Linked DNA regions of Homo sapiens: region 2 is linked to region 1. Evidence: fine-mapped expression QTL. A gene starts in region 1. The other region holds a variant in brackets. All regions are shown on one strand. Distances are from middle to middle. Region 1 holds the start of ABCC3 (ATP binding cassette subfamily C member 3). Region 2 overlaps ABCC3 (ATP binding cassette subfamily C member 3).

Region 1 (2,903 bases):
CTGCCACGGTCATACCAGCCTGGCCCAAAGGGCAGTGAAAGGAAGTGTGCTCATGAGGCAAAGGCACAACCTCTGGACCCTGGTGGCAAGTGGCCTGTCCATGCTGAATAATACATGAAGTTCCTGTGGGACTGGGAAAGAAGGGCAGTGGCAGAGAAGTTGCACCATCTCGGATTAACCTTTGGGTCACCCACAGAAAAAGAGAGAATCCCAAATATGCCTTTTTACAGTTTTTTTTTTTACCTCCATTGCCCCAAGTTTCAAAAAATCCATATAACGCCTTCAGCCCATTCTAAACACAGCCCAAGAGCATAGCTCCAGACTTATACACCTGTGCACACACGTGCACAGCACGAACTCTTGGGTAACACCCCACGTGCCTGCGTGTGTGCGTACACACACAAAGGGCATATATGTACAAATACTCAAAATAGGAAAAGACTTAGAGATTGGGATTCACAAGCCCTGGACACCCCTTTAATGACCACAGAGAAGCACCTTTAATCTGAGCTCCCTCTGTAAAACGGAGACCACATGATCACTTGCCTCATAGAGGCAAGTAAGTTTTGCAAGTTGGTAAGAAAGCTCCTAGGCTGTATGCACTTAGCTCACCTGAACTGTGCTGGAGGCTGGAGTCAGCAGGCTGAAGAGCAGCCTGTCTTAGAAAGAGATTTGGAGTGAGAGTCACCAAAGGCTTGATTTTCTTTTCTTATTTATTTATTTTTTTAGAGACAGGGTCTCACTCTTTCGCCCAGGCCACAGTGCAGTGGTGCGATCATAGCTCACAGTAATCTAAAACTCCTGGGCTGAAGTGATCCTCCCACCTCTGCCTCCCAAAGGGTGGGATTACAGGCGTGAACCACTGCACCTGGCCTGTAGCCTGTTTTTCTATCCCAGCTCTGCCTTCATTGAACTGGGTAACTTTGGGCAAGTCCCTTCCTCTCTCTGGGCCTCCCTTTCTCCATCTGTGAGAAGGGAGTTGGACTACAGGAATCCTGACACCCTGCACCTGTCTCCAGACTGGGGTCTGCTTCTCCCTTCTGAGTCCGGAGTGGTGGGGATGGCCTGCTCTCAGACCTCAGTCTTACCTAGAGAAAAGAAGGTGGCAGGAAACCTTCCTAAGAAGGGTGGGACACTGCACAGCCGGCCTCCCAAAACACCTGGTTGAGCAGGTGCTCTGGATGCCCTGGGGGCAATCCATGCCCAGGTGGGCAACCGAGTCCTAACCTGAGGCAGATGCTGAGGGAAGACCCTCCATCAGGAACCCGCGGCTGATTGCGAAACGCCCCTTCCGCACCCGACGGAGGGGCTGGGATGGAGCCGACTCACCCAGCCACGCACTGTGCCTTTGCGCCCCAGCCGCGCACTCTTCCTCACTTTCCCGGGCTCCCCAGTGCTGCAGCCGGGAAGGGCAGAGCAGGGCAGGTCCCCGACACCGCGTGGGACCCGGCTCCGGGCGGCGCAGCCAACCTCCCTCCCGAGCCCATCGCCCCCTCCCGGGCGCCCAGGCCGTCTCAGGGGCTCCGTCCCGGGATACCTGCCGGCCCCGCGGGAAGGCAGGCGGCGGGGACCGGGCGAAGCCGGCCGACCCTGGCCCCCGCGCAGTGACCCCGGAGCCCCGCGCCTTACCCAGAACTTGGAGCCGAGCTCCCCGGAACCGCACAGGGCGTCCATGGGGCCGAGGCGCGGCTGCAAGGAAGGCGAGCGCGGTCGGACCCAGCGGCGGGCAGAGCGGGCGCCGGAGCCGCCTCCGCCCTCCGCACCCCGCGCTCCGCCCGGACCCGCCCTGCCGAGCCCTACCCCAGTGCCTCTGGGTCCGGTCTCCCTGCCCCCGTCCCGCGGGTTGCGACAGCGCCTCCCTGGGAGGGACTTTGGGGCAGAGGTGGGGGGGCCCTTGGCACGGCGACAGCCCCTGCGAGCGGCCCCTGGGCCAAGCCAGGGGGATGTCTCTCTAAATACCGAGGCTAACAGTCCAGGAGTCGAGTCTATTTCCAAGGGGGAACTGGGATACACAGGCGCTCCCACTCCCGAACAAGTCCGTGGGGCCGATGAGTCATTGAGTAGGGGACGTAGGGAGAGGGATTTAACAATCTTTCCTAGTAAAAAAGGAATCTTTGAGAAGGTCACGTTCCTCTCCGGAGGTCAGTTTCCTCATCTGTAAAATGGGAAGGGCTTCTGTGCTCAATCAGGAAGCTGACCTCTTCCCCATCAGGTTCCAGAGACCACTGGCAGGCGCCACACGGGGAGCACACGGGGTGTGCTCCGCGGGTGTGTACCCGTGAGGCGGGGGTGGGGGCCGCAGCATCGTCCAGCGGGGGCCTCTTATGTCCTCTTAAACTGCTGCCCTCTTAGGCTCTGTGGCTCCCTGACCTTGCCACATCACCTCGGCACGTCTCTGGGCCTCTACTTTCACATCCGTAAAATAGAGACAATCATAGAAGAGAATCTTCCTCCCAGGGTTCTCTGAGGATTGAATGGAAAGGGTAGGCAAAGCGTATTTCCTGGCACACTTAGTGGGCACCCAACATGTGTGAATTCCCTCTGCTTCAGCCTGATCAGGGTTGGGGGGGGAAGGACAGGTGAAGCCCCAGGAGGAGCCCCACGTGAGTGTCCTCGTCCTCGTCCTCCTCCTAAGGCTGAAACTCTACATTCCTGATCTGTAAAATGGGCTTGTCAGTGCTCTCCTTCTCCTGCTTGCCTCAGCTCTCCTTCTCCCGGTATCCCCTCAGATGCGGGGATCCCTCCATCTCTCAATCCCGCTGTTGCCCTGTCTTCCTTAACACAATCCCAGACGCCAACTCAGCACCGCTTGTTGGGGCTCAGAAGGAATTCTCCCTGGCAAATCTTTCCCTGGCCCTTCTCTTCCCTGCCTTTGCCCACAGGTCTGTCCAGTTTCACCCCGG
Region 2 (2,888 bases), 44 kb before region 1:
CCACGCCCAGCTATTTTTTTGTATTTTTAGTAGAGATGGGGTTTCACCATGTTGGCCAGGCTGGTTTTGAACTCCCGACCTCAAGAGATCCACCCACCTTGGCCTCCCAAAGTGCTGGGATTACAGGCATGAGTCACTGTGCCCCGCCTCCTGCAAGGTTTTAAGTGCTCAGTGCAGGCATGAAGAAGGCAGATTGGTGGGCTCAGCTGGGGTGGGTTTTGGAGGTGAGTACAACTGAGAGAGAAGAAAGAGAAGGGCAAGGCAGGTGAGAGCGTTTGTGTTGGTGGAGCATAGACTCTAGGCTGGCCGGGGAGGGAGGTGAAGGCAGAGAAGCTGATGGACAGAGACACAAAGGGGGGTCATGGGATTGGGAGTCCCAGTGAAGGCAGACTGCTGTGACAGTGGGGGACTTGGAGCATGAGAGCGAGCAGGATAGGAGCGTGGGCCAAAGATGGGATGCTTGACACTGATGCTGCAGCTTCTGGGCATGAAGAGGGCTAAGGTGTGACCATGAGAGGGGGCGGTGGAGAAAAGTCTGGAACCCCCAGTAGGGAACAACTCCTTTTCCCCAACAAAGGGCATGCTGCCCCACCTCCACTCCTTTGCCCAGGCTGGTCTCTTTGGCTGGAATGCTCACCTTCCCACTGCCCACCCCACCATCTTACTTAGTCTATCAAAGCCTGTCCATCCTTCTCATCTAAGCTCGTCTCCCCTGGTCACCCCAGCTGAAGGATCTCCCTCATCTGCCCTCTCCAGGTGCACCACGCCAGAGATCTGGTCATCCACTGCAAAGCCCTGCAATAGGTCTTACCCCTCCCACCAAATCAGAATCACCTAAGGGCAAACACCGTCTTGCTCAACTCTGATCTCTCTACACCTCCTAGCATAGAGCATTGGTTGATGCTCAGTAAGGAGTGAATGGGTAAATGAATGAAGAGCCCCATACGTGGCAGGCCCTGATGTTGAGGGAGAGAGAGCCACCAAGCTTTCTTCCCCAGCTACTTCAGATTCCCCCTGTCCCGGGCTCATGCCAGTACCCACCTCTGTCTCTGTCTTGGAGTACTCCTTGACCCTCTCCACAGCCACGATGTTAGATTCCAAATCTGACATCATTCGTATCATCCAGTTCAGAGCAAATGTCACCTGGCCAAAGGGACTGGGTTATACGTATGGCGATCTCCCCTCCCCACCGTAATGGCTTTGGGAGGAGTTCAGACTCCTGGATCATGTGCCCATCCATGGGATCCTAGCCCATGGATGACCCAGGTGGGCCTGGATCAAGCCCACAGGCATGCCAGCTGGGGCTGTAATCACGAATGACTCCCTTGGGCAGTGACAGTGCAGACTTAACCAAGGACCACCTC[G/A]CCTTGGTTTCTGTTTCTCCAACTTTAATATGTATAAGACTTCCCAGAGAATCTTGTTAAAATGCAACGCCGGATTCTGTAGTCTGAGGTGGGACTTGGAACCTGAGATTCTTCATTTCTAACAAGCTCCCAGAGGATGGTGATGCAACTGGCCCATGGGCCACACTTTGCGTACCAAGGAGTCTTGATCAAAGTGCAGAGTCCTGAGCCCCATCCTAGGTCTACTGAATCAAAATGTACATTTTAACAAGTAGATTCATGTGCACACTGACCTTTGTGAAAATTGACCTTTCTGGATTGTTTTTTGTTTGCCAACGCGTTCAAGGTTTGAGCCACCTGAGGTATTAACAATGTGATCTGCTTTACAAAAATTCCGTTTGCAGTTAGGTGACTCTTTGACAGTACAAGCTGGCATCAGGATGACCTGCCTGACCTGCAGACCAGGCTTCAGTCACCTCGTCTGTGTACGTTCTCTGCAAGCATGTGAACGTGAGCGAGCGGTATGCCAGCCCTACACTGTCCTGACCTGTCACATGAGCCTACAACTTGCCCAGAGACAAGAGAAATTCTGTTTGTCCTTTGGGGCTAAGCTCCAAGATCATTTCTACAACACCCCAAAGCAAGAAAACTCCTCTGGACTTTTTTTTTTTCTCTCTTGAGATGGAGTCTCGCTCTGTCACCCAGGCTGGAGTGCAGTGGCGTGATCTTGGCTCACTGCAACCTCTGCCTCCCAGGTTCAAGCTATTCTCCTGCCTCAGCCTCCTGAGTAGCTGGGATTACAGATGCCCGCCACCACGGCTGGCTAATTTTTGTATTTAAGTAGAGATAGGGTTTCACCATGTTGGCCAGGCTGTTCTGGAGCTCCTGGCCTCAGGTGATCCGCCCACCTCCGCCTCCCAAAGTGCTGGGATTAGGTGTGAGCCACTGCACCCAGTCCCTCTTCTGGGCTTTTAAAACATTTTGTTTCTCCAGCCACAAAGACCTGCTCAGCCTGCAGCACAATCTCCTGCTGATGGGGGTCTCTCCAGTTGAACTGTGAGGTGTCAGGCAAGGTCGACGGCTGAGCAGGAGAGAGATGTGGGGTTTGAGGACAGAGATTATTCAACAGAATTCTTTCTGAATGTGAGAACATGGGCTTCTTGGGGAAGGAAAGTAGGAACATCCAGCCATGGTGTGTGGTTATAAACTTGTCAACTCAATGATTTTTTTCTTTTTTTTTTTTTCTCACAGTCCTTGAGAACAGACCCTGTGGCTGGTGCCCATACTGAGCAGGGAGGGGCACTCGGGAGATGCCTGGAACACCTGTGTGGTTTCTGTCCCAGTGGTGGCCCTGCCCTGGGGTCCAGGCCCTTCATACCTGCAAGGAGTAGGACACAGAAAGGCCCACCAGCCCCGGGTTCAGGCTGCTCCTCCCGATGACGGCAAATAGTGCAGCAAAGAGCACCACGCAGTTCCCCACGAACTCCACTCCGATGCTCAGCCACCTATGGGGGATCAGATGAGGAGGAAATGGGGCAGGGGCAG

What was found.
Region 2: its variant is fine-mapped to the expression of ABCC3 in whole blood (TOPMed, PIP above 0.99). The same link has a PIP of 0.9 or more in blood mononuclear cells and monocytes.

Annotation. Positions count from the first base shown.
Region 1 is chr17:50,633,708-50,636,610 of GRCh38, reverse strand. It overlaps ABCC3 (ATP binding cassette subfamily C member 3), which reads right to left and starts at 1,730. Exons shown (of 31, transcript NM_003786.4): 1 at 1,630-1,730. The coding sequence starts at 1,674. RefSeq lists a silencer at 1,711-1,760.
Region 2 is chr17:50,678,053-50,680,940 of GRCh38, reverse strand. It overlaps ABCC3 (ATP binding cassette subfamily C member 3), which reads right to left. Exons shown (of 31, transcript NM_003786.4): 25 at 2,722-2,848; 26 at 1,042-1,143. Among named protein-coding and RNA genes, the nearest start is that of ANKRD40, 28 kb to the left of the region's middle. The variant G/A (reference allele first, on the strand shown) is at 1,365.